7 linked regions of the Homo sapiens genome follow. The protein of the gene in region 1 purifies or fractionates together with the protein of each later gene. This does not show direct contact. Each region holds a gene or a part of one and is shown in the gene's direction. Other genes may lie near its edges. The genes, in order: BCAR1, ARPC1A, GAK, MOV10, TMOD3, HBD and RPS6KA3.

Region 1 (3,500 bases):
GCAGGACAGCCCCCGCCCTCCCGCTCCTCTGTGGGGCTCTGGCCCCTAGACCTGCCGCACTGCCTGTCCCGTCCTGCCTCAGAGCCTGGGACATAGTCCACCGTTTTCTTTTTTTTTCTTTTTGTGTAGTTTTTCAGCCCCAAAGCAAGAAACACTCATTCCTGAAAAACAGGAAGAGAAACTATCTCCATTGTCTCAGACATCTCTGGTGTCTTCCTGACCCTCTCTTGTCTTTACGTTTCACAGGACATTTTCTTGAGATGTGCTTTTCACTTGAGTGCCTTTTTCATTTTGTTGTAATCATGGTGTGGACAGTGTTGCAGCCATCCAGGGCCTCTGCCCTTGTGCTCACCTTGGCTCCAATATGACTCCACCTGGGCCTGCCCTCTCCTAGCTGCCCCCTGGCCCCTCCCTTGGGCCTTGCTCCTCCTGGCTCTCCACACTCCAGCCTCTGGCCCTTTTAGGGACTGGAGGCTCCTAGCTGCTCTGGAGAAATGGGCTCCCTGCTGATGATGTCCACCCAGGGCAAGTGAACCATGGGGTCTGAATGTCTGATCCTGGGACCTGGGGCAACTACTGCCTACCCAGGCCGCTGCCTGGTATGCCATCGCCCTCTGATGCCGGCCAGGGAGATGGCGCTCAGAGGGGCACTGTCCAGCCCCTGCTCATATAGGGGAGGAGGGTGGGCCCTAGGGACTTGAAAGAGGCCTCACCCCCACTCCTCTGCCCCAAGGCACAGGCTCCTGCTTCCTGTTTCTGCCCAAGGGGGCGTGGCCCTTTCTTCCTTGTTTCACTCCTTGCAGATGGAGTCCAGAAAGTGGGACTTGGGCCCAAGTGGGGATGGTCACACAGCTACTGGCTGGCCAGAACCCAGGTCCCATTTCCGAGTCAGAGTCTCGACCAGGCTGCACATCTAAGACGCCAGGAGACTCTGAGGAGGGACCTTGCAGGGCAGCCCAGAGCTGAGGCCAGGCTGGTGGGGTGGCTGGAGCCCAGTGCCGGTCACTGTCCAGCCAGCCTGGCACTGTTCTCACACCCGGCTTCCCTGTGTGTGAAGTCTGGGGCCCCTGTGGAACCCATGCAGCCCTCTGCTGCCCTAGGAGGGGCCGCAGCCCTGGCCTTGTCTCACCCCGTGCCTCCCTCACACCTGCCTTTTGCTGCAACCGCCCACACCCTCCAGCCAGGGATCCTCTGTCTCTCTGGGCCCATCCTGCGCCTGGCACCTCGATGGGGCAGCAGCGGCAGGGGCGAGGATGCATGAGTGTGTGGTGGGAAACTGCGAGGCCTCCCTGCCTGGGCTCTAGTGTCCCAGCGAGGCTCCGCCCCTGCCCTCGCCACGGCACTCATGCCTCTGATCCCACAGCCTCCTCCAAGTCCCTCTCGGACTGCTTGGCTCCTGGGCCACATGGAGCACGTACCCGGCTCTGCAAGGGTTTGCTGAGGGCGACGGGGCCAGGACAGGGAGGGTGTGCCTCCTGTTTCTTTCCCAGCCTTGGGGAAGGTGTTTGAAGTTTCTAAATTAATTACTGACTTTTTGGATTTGGGGTAGATAGACTTTGTTAAGGAAGCTCTGTCTTATTGTTGTTCATTTTTTTATCCTAAGAAGCTGTTCTTTTTGTCAGATTATTTTCGTGCACCTCGAGAGAGAACCATTTGCTATTTGTTTTAACTTGGCAGCTTTGTCGTGATTACTGCCGCTCTCCTTGTGTTGGTCCAGGTAGCAGAGTGGCCTTGGGTGGGGCTTTTAGGGATATCTTGAGGGTCATCCCTGGAGTTTTGGTGGTGACAGTGGTCAAGAGGATTTTGAGGTGCTATACAGGTGCAGTTGAAAGAAAGGCCAGGATCAGCTGGGCCTTTCTGCTGGGGAACAGGTGGGGACAGTGGAGGCAAAGGCACAATGATCTCGCCAAACTCCACTGAGTTCTTTTCCTAGTATCAAAGCTGGGCACCTCCCCAGAGCAGGGCAGGAGCTGGGGAGCCCCTGACGCCCCATGCACATCCTTCTGTTCTCACACCTGTGTCCTCTCTCCCCAGAACGTGCTGGCCAAAGCGCTCTATGACAATGTGGCCGAGTCCCCGGATGAGCTCTCCTTCCGCAAGGGTGACATCATGACGGTGCTGGAGCAGGACACGCAGGGCCTGGACGGCTGGTGGCTCTGCTCGCTGCATGGGCGCCAGGGCATCGTGCCTGGGAACCGCCTCAAGATCTTGGTGGGCATGTATGATAAGAAGCCAGCAGGGCCTGGCCCCGGCCCTCCCGCCACCCCGGCCCAGCCTCAGCCTGGCCTCCATGCCCCAGCGCCTCCGGCCTCCCAGTACACGCCCATGCTCCCCAACACCTACCAGCCCCAGCCAGACAGCGTCTACCTGGTGCCCACTCCCAGCAAGGCTCAGCAAGGCCTCTACCAAGTCCCGGGTCCCAGCCCTCAGTTCCAGTCTCCCCCAGCCAAGCAGACATCCACCTTCTCGAAGCAGACACCCCATCACCCGTTTCCCAGCCCGGCCACAGACCTGTACCAGGTGCCCCCAGGGCCTGGAGGCCCTGCCCAGGATATTTACCAGGTGCCACCTTCTGCCGGGATGGGGCATGACATCTACCAGGTCCCCCCGTCCATGGACACACGCAGCTGGGAGGGCACGAAGCCCCCGGCAAAGGTAAGGCTGTCCTGGCACAGTTGTGCAGCCACACAGGTATAGCCCAGGCCCTGGTTTGTGGGCACAGAAGGGTCCAGCCACCCTCAATCACCGGCATTCCAGGAGTGGCTGTGTGTTTGGTCTGGGGTCAAAGTGGGAAGTGAGTGTTTGGGGGGTGTTCATTTGTCCGGGGAAGATGGATGTGAATGGACCCAGAGGGGAGATGCTCCGCTGGCCTCAGCCAAGCCGACCCGAGTGGTGGTGTCACCAACCACAGGGAGCAGCCTGTTGAGGCGTTCCAGTGGGCAGGCGGGGCTTGGCACATGGGGTCGGCAGTTGCTGGGCCCCCGCAAGGGAGAGGCCAGCCACTTCATGCTCAGGCTCCCCTGTGCCATCTGGGTTTACGTGTCAGCCTCTAGATGGGGTTCCGGCACATCTTCTGGCCGCCCCTGCCTCCACAGGCCAACCCCTCTCCACTTATGGAACATGCTAGGGGCCAGCGGGTGCGTATGGTGATCTGGATGTGACTCCTGGGAGGACGCTGCCCCTGAGATTGCTAGAGGAGGACTGCCCTGAGAGCCTCCTGGGCTCTTGCTGATGGGATGCTGGGCCTGGGGACAAGACCTCTGGCCTCCAGACCCTGAGCCCGCTTCCCAAGTCCACAGGGCCCCTGCCTCCCAAGCTCACCTGCCTGTAGGAAGGAGTCAGCACTAGACACTCAGCCCAGGGCTGAGGTGGAGACCTCATTGGTGCCAGCTGGGCAGCGAGTCAGCTGGGAGTTACCCCCACCCCCGCCCATGGGTGGCCTGGTACCCAGGAGGCATGGCCGGAGGTCGTTGGCGGGTGGGGGACTCCATGGACATGGG
Region 2 (3,500 bases), on another chromosome or scaffold:
ATTTTTAATAGGGACAGGGTTTCACCGTGTTAGCCAGGATAGTCTCGATCTCCTAACCTCGTGATCCGCCTGCCTCGGCCTCCCAAAGAGCCACCGCGCCCGGCCTAACTCTTCAGTCACTATGACTTATGGGTAATTGAGGCTCAGAGGTATATTTGTCTTTTTTCCATATAAATGTCAAGAATGCTAATTATTAATTTTTAGAGAGAGATCTGTAATAAATATTTATTAGTAATATTTCTGTACTTTTTAATGTGAAATTATATTTATAGAAAATACCTCATCAAGGCCAGGCACTGTGGCTCATGCCTATAATCCCAGCACTTTGGAGGCTGAGACAGGCAGATCGCCTGAAGTCAGGAGTTCGAGACCAGCCTGGTCAACATGGTGAAACCCCGTCTCTACTAAAAATACAAAAATTAGCCGGGCATGGTGGCATCTGCCTGTAATCCCAGCTACTCGGGAGGCTGAGGCAGGAGAATCGCTTGAACCCGGGAGGCGGAGGTTGCAGTGAGCTGAGATCGTGCCATTGTACTCCACCCTGGGCTGCAAGAGTGAAACTCCATCTCAAAAAAAAAAAAGAAAGAAAAGAAAAGAAAATACCTCATCAATAAGTGTTAAATGAGTCATGGTGAATTTTGCTCTTGGTATATAAGAAACTGACCTTGAGTCTTGGTATATGAAAAACTGACCTTGACTTTGGGATTCTTCACAGAGGTACCAGATAAGTAAAGTCTCATCAAATAAGAAAAATAAACCTTACATTCAGATACATATTTAGGTATCTTCCTGGTTTAGATGCAAAGAAACAAGGATTCTTTCACAGGACCTGCATCATGTAGAAAAGGTTTTCAGTATGGTTCAACTGGCAGTGACTTTCAGAAGAATATATGATGAATCACAATATATAGTTCCCCCTCTTTACACTAAAGATTATTTTTATTTACCCTGTATGCTGTTTTAGTTGAATGCCATGTAGCAGACTGTTGGTTAATATCATAGAATGAGGTGTGTTAATGAATACAGTTATTTTCACACACACAAAAATCTAATAAAGAGGAAAGAAAGAAGTAATGAATCTTCAGATCTTTAGAAGTCTTAGAAATGTGTGAATGGGTGGAAAGAATGGCCCCGTTTAGTTTTGTAAAGTCTGTAATTATAAAACAGCTCTTCTACATGACCTCATAGACAATCCCGAGTCCCAGACGCTTTGCAGAGAAGCATCCTTGCCTTTCCTTGAGGCGGTGATCAGGACATAGATAGTGGGAAGGATGTGCCTGGGAGGAAGGTCCCAAGACCACGTCTCATCCTGGCATGCCAGTGCCACCCACCTGCCTGTGCCGCAGTTGTTTGTCATTGACTGGGCAAAGCAGATGACCCATGTCTCACTTGCAGGTATTGACTGGGCTCCCAAGAGCGACCGCATTGTCACTTGTGGGGCAGACCGCAATGCCTATGTCTGGAGTCAGAAAGATGGTGTTTGGAAGCCAACCCTGGTGATCCTGAGAATTAATCGCGCAGCTACTTTTGTGAAGTGGTCCCCCCTAGAGAACAAATTTGCTGTGGGAAGTGGAGCACGACTCATTTCTGTTTGTTACTTTGAGTCTGAAAATGACTGGTGAGTGACATCTGAATTTTTTCTATCCCTCTCTATAGAATTTACATTTGCACTGCTGTGTGAGGGCTCACCATAACTCCAGTTTTTCTCATCCGGAGTTGTGTGGTTTTTTCTCTGAAATTCTCGATTCTGTCTGAGCATTTTCCCTTCTCATGTGCATGTTAAGTTAAATCGCACGTTTTTTATATTAACATAGAGCTATTGTGTCCATGTTCTGATCGCCTAACTTGTTTCTTCTGCAAGATGCTATTACTGTTCTCACTCTATACTGCGCAAATTGCTGTTTTCTTACTCTCATTTACAAATAATAACATTGAAAGAGTCTCCGTTCCCTGAGGAATATTTTTTCTTTTTTTTTTTTTTTCACAGGATATCTATGTAGGATTCCTACAGATAACAATGTTCTTTTTTTTTTTTTTTTTTTTTTTTTTTTTGAGACAGAGTCTTACTCTGTTGCCCAGGCTGGATGGAGCGCAGTGACACGATCATGGCTCACTGCAACGTCCGCCCCCTGGTTCAAGCAATTCTCCTGCCTCAGCCTCCTGAGTAGCTGGGATTACAGTCACCTGCCATCGTGCCCGGCTAATTTTTGTAGTTTTAGTAGAGACAAGGTTTCACCATCTTGGCCAGGCTGGTCATGAACTCCTGACCTCATGATCCACCGCCTCGGCCTCCCAAAGTGCTGGGATTACAGGCGTGAGCCACCACGCCTGGTCAATGTTCCTTCTTTAAAGCTTATTTGCCAACCAAATCTGTGTCTTGGTGTAATATTTTACTTGTTTAAACTGTTGAAGTCAAAACTCACCAGAATCTTAGAAGTCTAATCAGCTATTGCACATTTTTTAAATTACTTCTTGCTGACCCAGTCAAAACACAGGTTTATTTTATGGCCAAAACTTATTTTAACTACTCCTTCCTGTTTGTTTTGATAAGGAAACAATTATTCTCCAGCCTGGCCAAGATGGTGAAACCCCATCTCTACTAAAAATACAAAAATTAGCCAGGCACAGTGGCAGGTACCTGTAATCCCACCTACTTGGGAGGAAGCAGGAGAATTACTTGAACTCGGAGGGCAGAGGTTGCAGTGAGCCAAGATCGTGCCACTGCACTCCAGCCTGGGCGGCAAAGTGAGATTCTATCTCAAAAAAAAAAAAAATTATTTTTCTGTGTGGCATGTGTTCAGCATGACTGGTAAATATCCTTCAACGTAAAGTTGTCATTTACTACTAAACTGGCAGTGTTTGTGTTTCTACTAAAAATAGCAGAGTATACATGACTCTTTGTAGCTGTTTTGTTATTTGTATTCTGCTGAAATTGAAAGAAGGGGATTATCATGTTACCTTTGTAATTTAGTAAAACTTCAGAAATTTTATTCTTCAAAAAGAGATTGGGAATTTGCGGTAAAATTGAGTTATGGGCCAGGTACAGTGGCTCATGCCTGTAACCCCAGCACTTTGGGAGGCCGAGGCAGGTGGATCACCTGAGGTCAGGAGTTCGAGACCAGCCTGACCAACACGGATAAACCCTGTCTCTACTAAAAATACAAAAAAATTAACGGGGTGTGGTGGTGCATGCCTGTAATCCCAGCTACCTGGGAGGCTGAGGCAGGAGAATCTCTTGAACCCAGTAGGCAGAGGTTGCGGTGAGCCGAGATCACGCCATTGCACTCCAGCCTGGGCATCAAGAGTGAAACTCCGTCTCAAAAAAAAAAAAAAAAATTGAGTTACGAATTTGAAACATACATTTTTCTTTCAAATGTGAAATCAAGGCTAACAAAATGTTACCTGCTAGAAACTATTTGGAAGTTTCATTGTAATGAGATAGGAAACTAACTTCATTAATATTCTCTCAAGGCTAAACTTTATGTCAGCTGGTACTCCTT
Region 3 (3,500 bases), on another chromosome or scaffold:
CCCGCCTCGTGCGTTTGGTTGGGTGTTGTATGTAATTTGAGCCAGCCCGCAGCCCTTGTGTGCCATGCGCAGTGTTAGCTGAGTGGCTGGGCCCGCTCAGGAGCCTTGGGGGTCAAGCTCTGGCCTAAGGAATGGGGAGGGCACAGCCTACTCCCACCCCCAGGGCCACTTGTGTGTGGTCCTGACTCTCCACCCTTCTTCCTCCTTGACATGGCTTTTGGAGGCTTCCTCCCTTCACTTACTTAGAATGTTCTGGGCCGGGCGCAGTGGCTCACGCCTGTGATCCCAGCACTTTGGGAGGCCGAGGCGGGTGGATTACCTGAGATCGGGAGTTCGAGATCAGCCTGGGCAACACGGGGAAACCCGTCTCTACTAAAAATACAAAATTAGCCGGGTGTGGTGACACATGCCTGTAGTCCCAGCTACTCAGGAGGCTGAGGCAGGAGAATCGCTTGAACCTGGGAGGTGGAGGATGCGGTGAGCCAAGATCACGCCATTGCACTCCAGCCTGGGCAACAAGAGTAAATCTCCGTCTCACCAAAAAAAAAAGAAAAGAAAAAAGAATGTTCTGGACTGGGTGAGGGCACTGTGAATATTTGGTACTGACTGACAGTTGCAGAATCATGTGGTACAAGCAAGACTCTTGGTTGCAAGTTTCAGAAACCCTCCCAGGTGGGCTCAGTGGCAGGAAGGCCCCATGTCTCCAAGGTGGGCTCAGTGGCAGGGGAGGCCGCATGCTGGCCCCATGTGTCCTCCGCAGGGTACACTTGAGATCATTTTCTTTTATTGAAAAGAGTCTGGCTCTGTCGCCCATGTTGAGTGCAGTGGAGCGATCACGACTCACTGCAGCCTTGAACTCCTGGGCCTACGTGATCCCCCTGGCCTAGGCCTCCCAGAGTGCTGGGACGACAGGCATGAGATAATGTGCCCAGCCTTAGACTGATCTTAAAAGTAGACCGGGCCGGGCACGACGGCTCACGCCTGTAATCCCAGCACTTTGGGAGGCCGAGGTGGGCAGATCACCCGAAGTCAGGAGTTCGAAACCAGCCTGACCAACATGGCAAAACCCCATCTCTACTGAAAATACAAAAACTAGCTGGGCATGGTGGCGCGTGCCTGTAATCCCAGCTGCTCAGGAGGCTGAGGCAGGAGAATCACTTGAACCTGGGAGGTGGAGGCTGCAGTGAGCTAAGATTGCACCACTGCACTCCAGCCTGGACGACAGAGCGAGACTCTATCTCAAAAAAAAGTAGACCCTTAGGTTGCTGTGGCGAGCCAGCCTTGTAGCCGACCCTCTTCCCACATAGGACTTGTGACTGAGGGCACCAGCCTCTGAAGCTCCGTGCTGTTCTCTTGGCCATGTGACTGAGGGCACCAGCCTCTGCAGCTCTGTGCTGTTCTCTTAGCCACCAGGGTTCTGTCATCCTTGCTTCTTTGTACCTCTCCTGGACCCAGAGCCTGAAGTGCGGTGGCTGCGCTCACCCAGGGAGGGGTGCGGGGCCTGCGCTCACCCAGGGAGGGGTGCGGGGCAGTGCAGAGCGCAGGTAAGCAGGGAGGGGTGCGGGGCAGTGCAGAGCGCAGGTAAGCAGGGAGGGGTGCGGGGCAGTGCGGAGGGCAGGTGAGCGGGGAGGGGTGCGGGGCAGTGCGGACTACAGGTGAGCGGGGAGGGGTGCGGGGCAGTGCGGACTGCAGGTGAGCCGGGAGGGGTGCGGGGCAGTGCGGACTGCAGGTGAGCCGGGAGGGGTGCGGGGCAGTGCGGACTGCAGGTGAGCCGGGAGGGGTGCGGGGCAGTGCGGACCGCAGGTGAGCGGGGAGGGGTGCGGACTGCAGGTGAGCCGGGAGGGGTGCGGGGCAGTGCGGACTGCAGGTGAGCGGGGAGGGGTGCGGGGCAGTGCGGACTGCAGGTGAGCCGGGAGGGGTGCGGGGCAGTGCGGACTGCAGGTGAGCGGGGAGGGGTGCGGGGCAGTGCGGACTGCAGGTGAGCCGGGAGGGGTGCGGGGCAGTGCGGACTGCAGGTGAGCGGGGAGGGGTGCGGGGCAGTGCGGAGCGCAGGTGAGCCGGGAGGGGTGTGGGGCAGTGCGGAGGGCAGGTGAGCCGGGAGGGGTGCGGGGCAGTGCGGACTGCAGGTGAGCCGGGAGGGGTGCGGGGCAGTGCGGAGCGCAGGTGAGCCGGGAGGGGTGTGGGGCAGTGCGGACTGCAGGTGAGCGGGGAGGGGTGCGGGGCAGTGCGGACTGCAGGTGAGCGGGAAGGGGTGCGGGGCAGTGCGGAGCGCAGGTGAGCGGGGAGGGGTGCGGGGCAGTGCGGAGCGCTGGTGAGCCGGGAGGGGTGCGGGGCAGTGCGGAGCGCAGGTGAGCGGGGAGGGGTGCGGGGCAGTGCGGAGCGCTGGTGAGCCGGGAGGGGTGCGGGGCAGTGCGGAGCGCAGGTGAGCGGGGTGGGGGGGGTTGCGGGGCAGTGCGGAGCGCAGGTGAGCTGGGAGGGGTGCGGGGCAGTGCGGAGCGCAGGTAAGCAGGGTCTCTGGGGCTTGGTTAGTTGGTTCTAGGTCATCAGGCCTGTGAGGCCCAGATTCTGCCACAGAGTAGCTGCCCCCTGGCGGCTCTCCTGGTACCAACCGCCTTCACTTCCAAGTTGACAGCTTGATCATCAACATTTGTCCACTTTGGCTAGTTCCCAGCGTGAAGTAAAAATGGTCAGAACCACCACAGCAACCCTTAGGGGCTCTTCGTATTTGCCGAGCATGGTCAGTAGTACTTTATGTGGATTGTGTGGTCCTCACAGTAGCCCTGGAAAGTGGGTACTATAATTACTTCCATCTCGCAGAAGAGAAAAGTGACGTTTGCAGAGATTAGTTGCTTGCCAGAGGTCGAGTGGTGGAGTGGGGGCTGGGAGCCCCAGGGAGGTGTCCTTAGGGCCCCTGTCCTGGCCCCCGTTGCTCTGCGCATTGTGCCCTGGAGGAGATGTCTGAGCATATAAGGTAGTAGAGGCTGTTGGGGCGGAGAGTGACAGGCCAACACCACTTCATGCTCAGCTGCGGCTGACCCTTGGCAGGAACAAGCCTGTGTTACTTCTGTGGTTTCTGTCTGTTAACATACAGGGAGGTCACTCTTGGGGAGGACCCCATGGGTGGGCTCACCATTGGGGGAGGTCACTGTCGAGGGAGGACCCCCTGGGGTGAATTAGACGTTCGGGGAGGTCACTGTCCAGGGAGGACCCCCTGGGGTGAATTAGACGTTTGGGGAGGTCACTGTCGGGGGAGGACCCCCTTGGGGTGAATTAGACGTTCGGGGAGGTCACTGTTGGGGACGACCCCCGGGTGGGCTCACCACTGGGGGAGGTGACAGTTGGGCTGGGCCACTCCCCTTTCCTCCTCCTCCACTCCGTGGACTCCTGGTGAATTGCTCATGGTTGTCTGTGTGGGTGCGCATCCCCGTGTCCCAGTCCGTCTGTGCTGCTGTAACAGAACGTCGTACACTGGGGGCCTATAAACCACAGACGTTTGTTTA
Region 4 (2,581 bases), on another chromosome or scaffold:
TCCCTCTTGCATTAGGTTAATGGCACGAGAGAAAGGCACCTGTCCCCTCCTTCCAGGTGGAGAAAATCCGTTACTGCATCACCAAACTTGACAGGGAGCTTCGAGGACTGGATGACATCAAGGACTTGAAGGTGACATGCTGTTCCACAGTCACTCCCTGCCTTCCGTGTGCCCCCACTTGCCCACTTCCAGAGACTTCCTCAAGCTTCCACTCCAGCCCACGTCCCCGTCCCACCCCTGCTGCCTTGAATAGAGCTCGAGCTCTCCCTGAGCCTCTCACTCCTGGAGATTCCAACTTAAGGGTCTGGGATGGGATCAGGAAGCCTGCATGTTTAACAAACACCTCCTGTCATTCTTAGACTGAGGCAGGTTTGAGGCCTCTGCCCTAAGGATAAAGTCCAAATTCCGTGGCCTGTCATGTGATGCTGCCACCCCCACCCCCAGTAGCCTCTCTCTTAAGGTTCTGGTCTCAACACTGGCTGCAGATAACAATCACCTGGAGAGCTTTTAATACCCCGCCCCCATGCCAGGGCCCCACCCACCAGCTCATACAGCTATCGGGGCAGAGCCAGGGCACTGGTAGTTTTTACAGCTTCTCAGGTGATTCTAATATGCAGCCAGGGTTGAAAACACTGCTCTAAGACTTACAGGCCTCTCTCTTGGAAATTCTGATCGGGGGTCCGGGTTAGGGCCCAGGGTTGTATATTCTTAACAGATACTTAGTGATTGTTTTCAGGAAAGTTTGAAAGTCACTGCTCTGAGTTCCCGTGTTCTTTGCAATGCTGTTTTCTTTCCTTAGAACACTTTGCAGGCCCCAGCCCTCAGCAGGATTCAACCTTCATGTTTCAGCTTCCACAGCCTACCTCCCATCCCCTTTCCCTGGGCCGTGTCGCAGCACTGGTTCACTCACTGATCTACAATTGCCCAGTGACCTCTCTGTACCCTCCTTGGAAGGCAAGCTCCCTGGGGTAGGGCACCCCTTTGACACCCCTGGCTGGTCTCAGGCCCTGCCTCTTTCCCCACTAGGTGGGTTCAGTAGAAGAATTCCAAGGCCAAGAACGAAGCGTCATCCTCATCTCCACCGTGCGAAGCAGCCAGAGCTTTGTGCAGCTGGATCTGGACTTTAATCTGGGTTTCCTTAAGAACCCCAAGGTTTGAGGGCTGGTCGGGGTGGCAGGAATTCTTCCATTCTCGGGGCTCTTCCCTCCCATGACCACACCACTTCTTCCTTCCAGAGGTTCAATGTAGCTGTGACCCGGGCCAAGGCCCTGCTCATCATCGTGGGGAACCCCCTTCTCCTGGGCCATGACCCTGACTGGAAAGTGTGAGCATTCCCACCCCATTCTCCCTCTTAGTGGCCACAGCCCCTGCCTAGGGCAGGTGGATCTTTTTTAAGCGCTTGCTTATCGCTCAGTTAATCCTCAGATGTGTCCATTTTCACAGCATCACTATTGTATTTATAAGTTAAATGACATCCAGAGGTTGAGCAAGTACAGCTCAGATGGGACAGGACCGTGGCTTAGCCTCCAGTCTCTGCTGGCACTCCTCTGTACCCCACAGATTCCTGGAGTTCTGTAAAGAAAACGGAGGGTATACCGGGTGTCCCTTCCCTGCCAAACTGGACCTGCAACAGGGACAGAATTTACTGCAAGGTCTGAGCAAGCTCAGCCCCTCTACCTCAGGTATGGCTGGGCCAGGGTGGGGACAGTGCCAGAGGAGGTGGTAAGGAAGACACAGTGTACTTTCTCTCTTTCCAGGGCCCCACAGCCATGACTACCTCCCCCAGGAGCGGGAGGGTGAAGGGGGCCTGTCTCTGCAAGTGGAGCCAGAGTGGAGGAATGAGCTCTGAAGACACAGCACCCAGCCTTCTCGCACCAGCCAAGCCTTAACTGCCTGCCTGACCCTGAACCAGAACCCAGCTGAACTGCCCCTCCAAGGGACAGGAAGGCTGGGGGAGGGAGTTTACAACCCAAGCCATTCCACCCCCTCCCCTGCTGGGGAGAATGACACATCAAGCTGCTAACAATTGGGGGAAGGGGAAGGAAGAAAACTCTGAAAACAAAATCTTGTTCTATGCAAAAGCCTTGATAATGTCTCCTCTGCCTGGCCCCAGCTTCCTGAGCCCCTAAGCTGACCCTGTAGGGAAGGGTGGGACTTTCAGCCCTGCTGAGGGTCACATCCCCTCCCAGCTGGAGAGGAACCCAGCCCCCACACTCGGGGGAGGAAACCCAGTGGGAGGTGGCAGGGAAGCCACCCACAGGTTTCTAAGTTTAGCCCCCTGCTACAGACCACTCCCTTCACCCGCCTCCTTGGCCCAGAGCCAGGCATGACCTCATCCTTTGCTCTAAGACTCCACCCTGCTGGCCACTGGCCTGCTTTGTAGACAGGGGGCCAGGCTGGCAAGCAACTTGGACATGAAAAGAGATGGGACACCAAGCACCCAGAGGGAAAGACCGAAAGCTGCCACACACGTTGGAGCCTGTAGCCTTTATTCATGCCCCCCTGACCAAATGCAGTGAGAGACAAGGCCCCTGCCGAAAACAACTCCAGGGGCCTGGGACTCTGGGTCCCCTACTGCAGA
Region 5 (3,500 bases), on another chromosome or scaffold:
TCTCTCCTTCAAGTAGTGTAGGGTTAATCTCTCTTAGTGCTTTGTAGCTTAAACTAAGTGACTGAGAACAGTCTGTCTGCCTCAGGAATCGTACTCATCAGAGATGGACTCCTTCATTTCTTTCCTTGTAGAAAAGTAAATCCACTTTTATTTTCATATAAAAAGAATAATGAAGGCTGGGTGCAGTGACTCATGCCTGTAATCCCAGCACTTTGGGAGGCCGAGGAGGGTGGATCACCTGAGGTCAGGAGTTCGGGACCAGCCTGACCAACATGATGAAACCCCATCTCTCCTAAAAATACAAAATTAGCTGGACCTGGTGGTGCATGCCTGTAATCTCAGCTACTTGGGAGGCTGAGGCAGGAGGGTTGCTTAAACCTGGGAGATAGAGGTTGCAGTGAGCTGAGATTGCGCCGTTGCACTCCAACCTGGGCAACAAGAGCAAAACTCTGTCTCAAAATACATAAATAAATAAAAGGAATAATGAAAGGTGAGAATAATGAGAATTTTTTTTAACCTAAATGCTAGAGAAATGGTGATATGTGCTCTGCTCTGAGTCAGTAGTTTATGCAAATGCTCCATCGTAGATAAGTCAGATAATTATGGAGGAAGCTGCATTATTTGTATTCATTTGTAGACTAATTCTTAGGTGTTTGTATAATTTCTGAATACATTTTAAAGCAAAAAAAACCATATATTTGATTAATGGAAACTAAATATAATGAAAATTGAAATGTAATGATGTTTTATGTTATTGTCTTTCAAGAATATCCCAATTCCAACCCTAAAAGATTTTGCAAAGGCTTTGGAAACCAACACACATGTGAAATGTTTCAGTCTTGCAGCCACCCGGAGCAATGACCCTGTTGCTACTGTAAGTAAGCGACTTGAGAATATCAAAATTATGACATGCCCAGGGTGTGTTACAGTGGTGATTTTTATGAACAAGATTTACCCCTTTTTTATAGTTAATGTTTTAGCTCACTATTAGGCAGTATATTACTTACCAGCTTTTTGTGTTTATTTTTTCCTGTATTTCCTTCCTATGAATTTTTTCCCCCTCCCAGCTTCCCCCTCCTTCCTATGAATTTTTTAAAACATAAATGGAATCATGTAGTATATGCTGTTCTGCAACTTGATTTTTCACTCTGCAGTTTATCTTTAAAGTTTTGTTGTATCAATACATAGGGATCTACCACATTATTTTAACATCTTCAGAGGATTCCATTTATGGATCCTTAGTGGTGGATTTTTGTTAAATGCTTTTGCTGTGTCTCTTGAGATGTTCATATGGTTTTTGTCCTTTATTCTGTCAATGTGGTGTATTGATTGACTTTTATATGTTGAACCAGCCTTTCATTCCTGAGATAAATCCCACTTGATCATGGTATAAACCTTTTGTTTCATTGGCTTTGAGAATATCACTCACTCCCTTGGGGGCTCCCCTTACCTCAGTGGACATTCCTTCTCAAAGCCCTGTACTGGTTTCTCCATATCTCTTCAACTTCTAAATATTGGAATGGCCCAGAACGTGGTCCTTCTTTTCTCAGTCTACACTGACTTTCTGGGTAATCTCAGAAATATATATATTATCTTCATATACTTGCTGATGACTCCCAGTGTTATTATCTACAGTTTGTATCTCTCTCCTGAACTCCGTATTCATGTCCAGCTACCTCCTCAGCAGCTTTACTTGGATGTCTAATGGACATCTTACATGTAAGTCCTCAAACTCCTGACTTCCATCCTGTGCCTGCTTTTCTCTGCTGTTTTCTATCTTACTAAATGCAATTTCAATCTTTCATTGCTCAGGCAAACAAAAAAAAAAAATTTTTTTTTTTTTTTTTTTTGAGACAGCGTCTCACTCTGTTGCCCCGGCTAGAGTGCAGTGGCGCAATCTCGGCTCACTGCAACCTCCGCCTCCCGGGTTCAAGCGATTCTCCTGCCTCAGCCTCCTGAGTAGCTGGGATTACAGGCATGCGCCACCACGCCTGGCTAATTTTTGTATTTATAGTAGAGATGTGGTTTCACCATATTGGCCAGGCTGGTCTCGAGCTCCTGACCTTGTGATCCGCCCACCTCAACCTCCCAAAGTGCTAGGATTACAGGCGTGAGCCACCACGCCCAGCAAAAAAAAAAAAAAAAACAAAAAACTAATGGAATCATTCTCGACATCCCTTTCTTGCAACTTAAACCTACCTTTGGCCCTATCTTCAAAATATTTCAGAATCCAACCACTTCTCACCATTTTCACAACTACCACCTTGACCCAAGCCACCATCTTTTCCCACCTGGATTATTGCAACAGCCTCCTAATTGGGTTACCTTCATCTATTTTACCTACCCCAAAGTCAGTTCTTTACATAGCACCAAGAGTGATTCTTTTAAAACTTAAGTTAAATGACCTCATTCCTATTCGGATAACCCTCTAGCAGCTTCCCATCTCATTAAGAGTAAAAATAAAAATCTTTCAGTGGCCTTATAAGGCTTCACATGAGTGGACTTCATCTCATTTACTTGCCCTTTCTTTCATTCTACTCTAGCCATACAGCCTTCTTCAGCATGCCATGTGGACTCCCAAATCAGGGCCTGTACATTTGTTCCTTCTGCCTTGAACTTTCTTCCTAAAATAATCCACTTAGCTTTGTCTTATCACTTTGACTCTTTGCTCAAATGTCACCTTCTAGTTGAGGCTTTTCCTGACCGTGCTATATAAAATACCAACCCCATTCCCACCCCCAGTATTCCCCATCTACCCTATTGTGCCTTTTTTCTTTTTACCCTCTAACATTGCACTTTGCTTACTTTTATTATCTGTGTCCCTCCCCAGCTAGAATGAACATTCTGCCAGGCAGGGACCAATGTGTTTTATCTCTGAATCTCTAGGACAGTGCTAATCAAATAATAGACCATCAGTAATATTCGAATACATGTATGGATAAGGGATTTGTTCCAGGTCACATAGCTAGTTGTTGCTAATAGAAAGGACAAGTATGTAGATACCAGCCACAGTTTTTTTAGTATCTCTACGCCCTATTGCCTTTCCTTTAACTTTAAGCTTGGTCTTACCCATATTTTCTGTAGTTTAACCTTGCTTTTGATCCCTCTAAGGGGCTGTTTTATATAAACTCATGATCATTGTTCTTTTTTCTCTCTCTTTCCTTCCCCTCCTTCCTTCCCTTCTTCTCTCTTCCTACCTCTGTCTCTTTTTCTTTCCTTCCCAGTCTCCCTCCTCTTTCTTTTTTCACTTGTAGGCTTCTGTTAATTAATCAATATGGTACTTATTAAGCACTGAGTCAAATGTCTAACACTGTACTGTATCCTATGAGAAATGAAATAGAAGCAGATTGAAGACATACCATTACTTGAGGAATTTAATATTTTATTAGCCCCTTCTTCTCAATGGCCTTTGTGCTCTTCTGGTTCTGGTTATCTGTGTTCTTTTCTGGCCTTCTGCCTTGACCATTTCTTTTGGCCCCTGCCTTGGAAATTAGTACATA
Region 6 (3,397 bases), on another chromosome or scaffold:
CACCAACAGAGTTTGAGTTTCTATTGATCCATATCACCACCAAAATTTGAACTGTCAGTCTTATCTCTTCTCTTGTCTCTTTTTTCCTCTTTTTTTTCCTTCCCTTCCCCTCTCTTCGTTTCTTTTCTCTCCTCTTCTCTTCTTTCCTCTCTTCCCTTCCCTTTCTCTTTCTCTTCCCTATCCCTTCTCCTCTCCTCTCCCCTCCTTTTTTCTCCTCTCCTCTCCATTATTTATTTTTCCTTCTTCTCCTCCATCCCTTCCATCCTCTCTCTTCCCCTCTTCCTTCCTTCCTTTCTCCATTTCTTCCTCCTCTTTCCTTCAATCCTTCCTTTTGGATATGCTCATGGGTGTGTATTTGTCTGCCATTGTGGCATTATTTGAATTCAGAAAAGAGTGAAAAACTACTGGGATCTTCATTCCTGGGTCTAATTCCACATTTTTTTTTAAGAACACATCTGTAAAAATGTTCTGTACTAGCATATTCCCAGGAACTTCGTTAAATTTAATCTGGCTGAATATGGTAAATCTACTTTTCACTTTGCATTCTTTCTTTAGTCATACCATAATTTTAAACATTCAAAATATTTGTATATAATATTTGATTTTATCTGTCATTAAAATGTTAACCTTAAAATTCATGTTTCCAGAACCTATTTCAATAACTGGTAAATAAACACTATTCATTTTTTAAATATTCTTTTAATGGATATTTATTTCAATATAATAAAAAATTAGAGTTTTATTATAGGAAGAATTTACCAAAAGAAGGAGGAAGCAAGCAAGTTTAAACTGCAGCAATAGATTTGTCCATTCCAACCTCTCAAAATTCCCTTGGAGACAAAAATCTCTAGAGGCAAAGAAGAACTTTATATTGAGTCAACTTGTTAAAACATCTGCTTTTAGATAAGTTTTCTTAGTATAAAGTGACAGAAACAAATAAGTTAAACTCTAAGATACATTCCACTATATTAGCCTAAAACACTTCTGCAAAAATGAAACTAGGAGGATATTTTTAGAAACAACTGCTGAAAGAGATGCGGTGGGGAGATATGTAGAGGAGAACAGGGTTTCTGAGTCAAGACACACATGACAGAACAGCCAATCTCAGGGCAAGTTAAGGGAATAGTGGAATGAAGGTTCATTTTTCATTCTCACAAACTAATGAAACCCTGCTTATCTTAAACCAACCTGCTCACTGGAGCAGGGAGGACAGGACCAGCATAAAAGGCAGGGCAGAGTCGACTGTTGCTTACACTTTCTTCTGACATAACAGTGTTCACTAGCAACCTCAAACAGACACCATGGTGCATCTGACTCCTGAGGAGAAGACTGCTGTCAATGCCCTGTGGGGCAAAGTGAACGTGGATGCAGTTGGTGGTGAGGCCCTGGGCAGGTTGGTATCAAGGTTATAAGAGAGGCTCAAGGAGGCAAATGGAAACTGGGCATGTGTAGACAGAGAAGACTCTTGGGTTTCTGATAGGCACTGACTCTCTGTCCCTTGGGCTGTTTTCCTACCCTCAGATTACTGGTGGTCTACCCTTGGACCCAGAGGTTCTTTGAGTCCTTTGGGGATCTGTCCTCTCCTGATGCTGTTATGGGCAACCCTAAGGTGAAGGCTCATGGCAAGAAGGTGCTAGGTGCCTTTAGTGATGGCCTGGCTCACCTGGACAACCTCAAGGGCACTTTTTCTCAGCTGAGTGAGCTGCACTGTGACAAGCTGCACGTGGATCCTGAGAACTTCAGGGTGAGTCCAGGAGATGCTTCACTTTTCTCTTTTTACTTTCTAATCTTACATTTTGGTTCTTTTACCTACCTGCTCTTCTCCCACATTTTTGTCATTTTACTATATTTTATCATTTAATGCTTCTAAAATTTTGTTAATTTTTTATTTAAATATTCTGCATTTTTTCCTTCCTCACAATCTTGCTATTTTAAATTATTTAATATCCTGTCTTTCTCTCCCAACCCCCTCCCTTCATTTTTCCTTCTCTAACAACAACTCAAATTATGCATACCAGCTCTCACCTGCTAATTCTGCACTTAGAATAATCCTTTTGTCTCTCCACATGGGTATGGGAGAGGCTCCAACTCAAAGATGAGAGGCATAGAATACTGTTTTAGAGGCTATAAATCATTTTACAATAAGGAATAATTGGAATTTTATAAATTCTGTAGTAAATGGAATGGAAAGGAAAGTGAATATTTGATTATGAAAGACTAGGCAGTTACACTGGAGGTGGGGCAGAAGTCGTTGCTAGGAGACAGCCCATCATCACACTGATTAATCAATTAATTTGTATCTATTAATCTGTTTATAGTAATTAATTTGTATATGCTATATACACATACAAAATTAAAACTAATTTGGAATTAATTTGTATATAGTATTATACAGCATATATAGCATATATGTACATATATAGACTACATGCTAGTTAAGTACATAGAGGATGTGTGTGTATAGATATATGTTATATGTATGCATTCATATATGTACTTATTTATGCTGATGGGAATAACCTGGGGATCAGTTTTGTCTAAGATTTGGGCAGAAAAAAATGGGTGTTGGCTCAGTTTCTCAGAAGCCAGTCTTTATTTCTCTGTTAACCATATGCATGTATCTGCCTACCTCTTCTCCGCAGCTCTTGGGCAATGTGCTGGTGTGTGTGCTGGCCCGCAACTTTGGCAAGGAATTCACCCCACAAATGCAGGCTGCCTATCAGAAGGTGGTGGCTGGTGTGGCTAATGCCCTGGCTCACAAGTACCATTGAGATCCTGGACTGTTTCCTGATAACCATAAGAAGACCCTATTTCCCTAGATTCTATTTTCTGAACTTGGGAACACAATGCCTACTTCAAGGGTATGGCTTCTGCCTAATAAAGAATGTTCAGCTCAACTTCCTGATTAATTTCACTTATTTCATTTTTTTGTCCAGGTGTGTAAGAAGGTTCCTGAGGCTCTACAGATAGGGAGCACTTGTTTATTTTACAAAGAGTACATGGGAAAAGAGAAAAGCAAGGGAACCGTACAAGGCATTAATGGGTGACACTTCTACCTCCAAAGAGCAGAAATTATCAAGAACTCTTGATACAAAGATAATACTGGCACTGCAGAGGTTCTAGGGAAGACCTCAACCCTAAGACATAGCCTCAAGGGTAATGCTACGATTAAACTCCAACAATTACTGAGAAAATAATGTGCTCAATTAAAGGCATAATGATTACTCAAGACAATGTTATGTTGTCTTTCTTCCTCCTTCCTTTGCCTGCACATTGTAGCCCATAATACTATACCCCATCAAGTGTTCCTGCTCCAAGAAATAGCTTCCTCCTCTTACTTGCCCCAGAACATCTCTGTAAAGAATTTCCTCTTATCTTCCCATATTTCAGTCAAGAT
Region 7 (3,500 bases), on another chromosome or scaffold:
CTATGTTGCCAGGCAGGTCTCAAACTCCTGGGCTCAAGTGATCCTCCCACCTCCGCCTCCCAAAGTGTTGGGATTACAGGCATGAGCCACTATGCACCAGCCATGATTTTCTATTATTATTATTATTCCTTCCTCATTTATTAGCTGGTATTTTCTCAACAAACTTTCCCTCATCAACTATGATGATTTAATTACTTGAAATAACGCTCATCCAAGAAAAAGAGAATAAATACTTAATTCTTTTCTTAAATTGTTTCTAATGTCAGAGCCCTAGTTACTTCCTAGTGGGGGTAGTATCCAGTGAGTCGAGTTTTTGTATTTTGACTTTGCTTTTTCTTACTTTACATAATAAACTCATGGGATTTAATAATCAGTGTGATTCAGCCAATTGCAGTCATTATTTTTAATGCCCTAATTGTTCTTTTTCTGACTACCTTTTAAATGGTCTTATCCCCCAGGATCCGTCTATGATATGCTTTTCTTCCCCCTCTGCACTCTTTCCTGACTGACTTCAGTCTTTCCTATAACTACCCTCCACATTTTAATTACTCTCAAATCACTCTTTCTTACATGAATTTACCAGGCATTAGACCTGTGTTTCTATTTACTCACCTGCCTGGCCCTCCCAAAACATATTACATGCATGACTTCACATCTTTGAACTAAATGTATCTTTATTTGCTGTTCTTTTCTTATACTCCCAGTTATCAGCATTTTCATGCACCCTCTTCCAAGCCAGAAACCAGGAAATCATTTTTTATTCCTTCTCTCTTTTGCATAATTAGGTATTCTCCAAATTCGATCTCAGAATTATTTCACTGTTCCAGCCTTTCCTCTGAATTAAACTGCTTAAAGTATTCAGAAAACAGTGACCTCTTACCCATACTATCTGACCACATTCCTAAGTTGATTGCCTACCACTTATGACCTCTTCCCACTCCAAATTGTTCTCTATTACCCTTGGAGTTACCTTCTTGAAAATAAGTCTAGTCATGTTAGTCCAGTTTCAGGACCTCTGCTGCATCCTTGTTACCTAATACAATAGTGTTTCCCCAGATTTGTCCAAGAGAATATTAATTCTACAAGATATTAATAGGTATTCTTTGAAAAAGAGGTGCTGGAAATAAATACTTAGAAAATACTGATTTCACCCATAATCCCAGCACTTTGAGAGGCTGAAGTGGGAGGATCACTTGAGGCTAGGAGTTCAAAACCAGCCTAGTCAACATGGCAAAACTCCATCTCTACAAAAAAAAAAAAAAAAAAAAAAAAAGCCAGGTGTGGTAGCACACACCTGTAATCCCAACTACTTGGGAGGCTGAGACACGAGAATCCCTTGAACCCAGAAGGCAGAGATTGCAGTGAGCCGAGATTGTGCCACTGCAGTCCAGCCTGGATACTCTGTCTTAAAAAAAAAAAAAAAAAAAACTGATTTGTTTGCTCTAGATTTCTCAGCCTTTTTATATGCAGTGTATTTTAATTCTGTGTGTCTAATAGGGGGATATAATAAATAGCATTCTACAAGCTCATTGGGTCATGAATTTTTTTATTGTTGCTAACTATCTAGAGGGATTAATGTTATTCAGTAAAATTTGGGGAAACACTAGCCAAATGAATAAATTGTTAGCCTTTAGATTGCATTGAAGACCTTTCATAATCTCCCATGTTAAATTAAATATCCCCTACTGTTCCCTTGTCACTCTTTGCATATGTTCTTCTGCATTTGTCTCTTAATGTACTAGCATTATCTGTATCCATCTTCACCATGGACCATGAGTTTCATGGGCTCTCTTTATCTCTGTATCCTCAGCACTAAACAGTGTCTGGCATGTAATAGCTCAATAACAACCCACTGAATAATAAATGGATCTGTTTCTGAAATAGGAATTTTCCCCAGCTCTATTATTATTGTCATACTTACAGGATCATTGGTTTCTTTAATTTGTAGGTTTGGAAAAAGAATTAAAATTAGAGCTGAAACAGACCTTCAAGTTCATCTAGGCCAGCAGTTTTTAGACTGTGTATCTTCAATATTTCACAATCCTCTTTCCCACAGTTCCCCTTCCCTTCAGGGGCTGTTAAAGGGAATAGAAAGGAAAAAGTGGCATATGAAACACATGTTCTCTTAGCAGCTTTAAATGTTAGGTTTCTTAAATTCCCTTTGAGGAGGAGTTCCGAGGCTATACTTTGGGAGCTATTGGTCTAGAGACCAATCCCTTTGCTTATGAAGAAATGATAACAGGCCCAGAATAATTGGCTTTCCCACTGTCACAAAGTTCTTAGTAACAGAGCCAGAACTAGGATTCAAATGATCTTACTTTCACAGTGCTCTTTGCAAAATTTTGAAAAATGAAAAAGCTTATTAGATTATGAACTAAAATTCAGTTATGTGTTCACATGAAAACCTGTACATAAATGTTCACTGTAGCTTTATTCATATTAGCCCCAAACTGGGCACAACCCAAATGTCCTTCAACAGATAATGGATAAATAAACTGTGACATATTCATACAGAAGCCATACATGTAATAAAATGGCATAGAACTAAACACACACACAAATAAGTGCAAATAAAACCAGTGCCATGTGAATGAGATCATTGGATTGTCTCCATGTCAATATCCTGGATGTGATATTGTACTGTAGTTTTGTAAGATGTTACCATTGGGGGAAACTGGGTAAAGGGCACAGGGGATCTCTCTGTATTATTTCTTACAACTGAGTGTGAATCTACAAGTATCTCAAAAAGTTTAATTTAAGAATTTTTAAAAATAAAAATACAGATGCCTCCAAAAAATAAAATATTATGTGGATTTATTATTTAGAGCCAAACTTGGAATGCCACAGTTTTTGAGTCCTGAAGCGCAGAGTCTTTTACGAATGCTTTTCAAGCGAAATCCTGCAAACAGATTAGGTAAAAATTTTAACTAATTTGTTTATGTTGTATGTTTGTTGGTGTTTGTTTTTAGCGGGGAGTAGATATTTGTTTTGTGGTGGAATTATTAACTATTTAGACAAGGCTAGGCCTGGTGGCTCACGCCTGTAATCCCAGCACTTTGGGAGACCAAGGCGGGAGAATTACTTGAGTCCAGGAGTTCAAGACCAGCCTGGGAAAAATGGCAAAACCTCATCTTTACAAAAAATACAAAAATTAGCCAGGCATGGTGGTGCGTGCCTGTAGTCCCAGCTACTCAGGAAGTTGAGGTAGGAGGATCACTTGAGCCTGAGAGGTTGAGGCTGCAGTGAACTGAGATCACACCACTGCGCTCCAGCCTGGGTGACAGAGCAAGCCCTTGTCTCAAAATTAATTAATTAATTAATTAATTAATTAGACAAGTATTGAAAACAAAGGCTGAGCAATATGTATATTTCTCCTTGAAATAAAATTATCAGTGAATCCATTTTTGATAGGTGCAGGACCAGATGGAGTTGAAGAAATTAAAAGACATTCATTTTTCTCAACGATAGACTGGAATGTAAGTATAGAATGAAAACTTGCT

What was found.
Region 2: the proteins of BCAR1 (region 1) and ARPC1A purify together in Homo sapiens (affinity purification with mass spectrometry; 2 studies listed by BioGRID and IntAct, with this or other methods). This does not show direct contact.
Region 3: the proteins of BCAR1 (region 1) and GAK purify together in Homo sapiens (affinity purification with mass spectrometry; 2 studies listed by BioGRID and IntAct, with this or other methods). This does not show direct contact.
Region 4: the proteins of BCAR1 (region 1) and MOV10 purify together in Homo sapiens (affinity purification with mass spectrometry; 2 studies listed by BioGRID and IntAct, with this or other methods). This does not show direct contact.
Region 5: the proteins of BCAR1 (region 1) and TMOD3 purify together in Homo sapiens (affinity purification with mass spectrometry; 2 studies listed by BioGRID and IntAct, with this or other methods). This does not show direct contact.
Region 6: the proteins of BCAR1 (region 1) and HBD purify together in Homo sapiens (affinity purification with mass spectrometry; 2 studies listed by BioGRID and IntAct, with this or other methods). This does not show direct contact.
Region 7: the proteins of BCAR1 (region 1) and RPS6KA3 purify together in Homo sapiens (affinity purification with mass spectrometry; 2 studies listed by BioGRID). This does not show direct contact.

Annotation. Positions count from the first base shown.
Region 1 is NC_000016.10:75,241,625-75,245,124, reverse strand, and holds part of BCAR1 (breast cancer anti-estrogen resistance protein 1), read left to right. Parts: intron 1-2,034; coding exon 2,035-2,655; intron 2,656-3,500. UniProt on the Homo sapiens protein: Docking protein which plays a central coordinating role for tyrosine kinase-based signaling related to cell adhesion. Implicated in induction of cell migration and cell branching. Involved in the BCAR3-mediated inhibition of TGFB signaling.
Region 2 is NC_000007.14:99,342,898-99,346,397, forward strand, and holds part of ARPC1A (actin-related protein 2/3 complex subunit 1A), read left to right. Parts: intron 1-1,395; coding exon 1,396-1,618; intron 1,619-3,500. UniProt on the Homo sapiens protein: Probably functions as a component of the Arp2/3 complex which is involved in regulation of actin polymerization and together with an activating nucleation-promoting factor (NPF) mediates the formation of branched actin networks.
Region 3 is NC_000004.12:925,817-929,316, reverse strand, and holds part of GAK (cyclin-G-associated kinase), read left to right. Parts: intron 1-3,500. UniProt on the Homo sapiens protein: Associates with cyclin G and CDK5. Seems to act as an auxilin homolog that is involved in the uncoating of clathrin-coated vesicles by Hsc70 in non-neuronal cells. Expression oscillates slightly during the cell cycle, peaking at G1.
Region 4 is NC_000001.11:112,698,659-112,701,239, forward strand, and holds the end of MOV10 (helicase MOV-10), read left to right. Parts: coding exon of another isoform or gene 1-15; exon of another isoform or gene 16-56; coding exon 57-131; exon of another isoform or gene 132-155; intron 156-799; coding exon of another isoform or gene 800-913; exon of another isoform or gene 914-1,026; coding exon 1,027-1,152; intron 1,153-1,235; coding exon 1,236-1,324; intron 1,325-1,560; coding exon 1,561-1,682; intron 1,683-1,757; coding exon 1,758-1,849; 3' UTR 1,850-2,081; downstream 2,082-2,581.
Region 5 is NC_000015.10:51,895,653-51,899,152, forward strand, and holds part of TMOD3 (tropomodulin-3), read left to right. Parts: intron 1-766; coding exon 767-874; intron 875-3,500. UniProt on the Homo sapiens protein: Blocks the elongation and depolymerization of the actin filaments at the pointed end. The Tmod/TM complex contributes to the formation of the short actin protofilament, which in turn defines the geometry of the membrane skeleton.
Region 6 is NC_000011.10:5,232,338-5,235,734, reverse strand, and holds HBD (hemoglobin subunit delta), read left to right. Parts: upstream 1-1,251; 5' UTR 1,252-1,301; coding exon 1,302-1,393; intron 1,394-1,521; coding exon 1,522-1,744; intron 1,745-2,642; coding exon 2,643-2,771; 3' UTR 2,772-2,897; downstream 2,898-3,397. UniProt on the Homo sapiens protein: Involved in oxygen transport from the lung to the various peripheral tissues.
Region 7 is NC_000023.11:20,176,410-20,179,909, reverse strand, and holds part of RPS6KA3 (ribosomal protein S6 kinase alpha-3), read left to right. Parts: intron 1-2,825; coding exon 2,826-2,914; intron 2,915-3,393; coding exon of another isoform or gene 3,394-3,411; coding exon 3,412-3,476; intron 3,477-3,500. UniProt on the Homo sapiens protein: Serine/threonine-protein kinase that acts downstream of ERK (MAPK1/ERK2 and MAPK3/ERK1) signaling and mediates mitogenic and stress-induced activation of the transcription factors CREB1, ETV1/ER81 and NR4A1/NUR77, regulates translation through RPS6 and EIF4B phosphorylation, and mediates cellular proliferation, survival, and differentiation by modulating mTOR signaling and repressing pro-apoptotic function of BAD and DAPK1.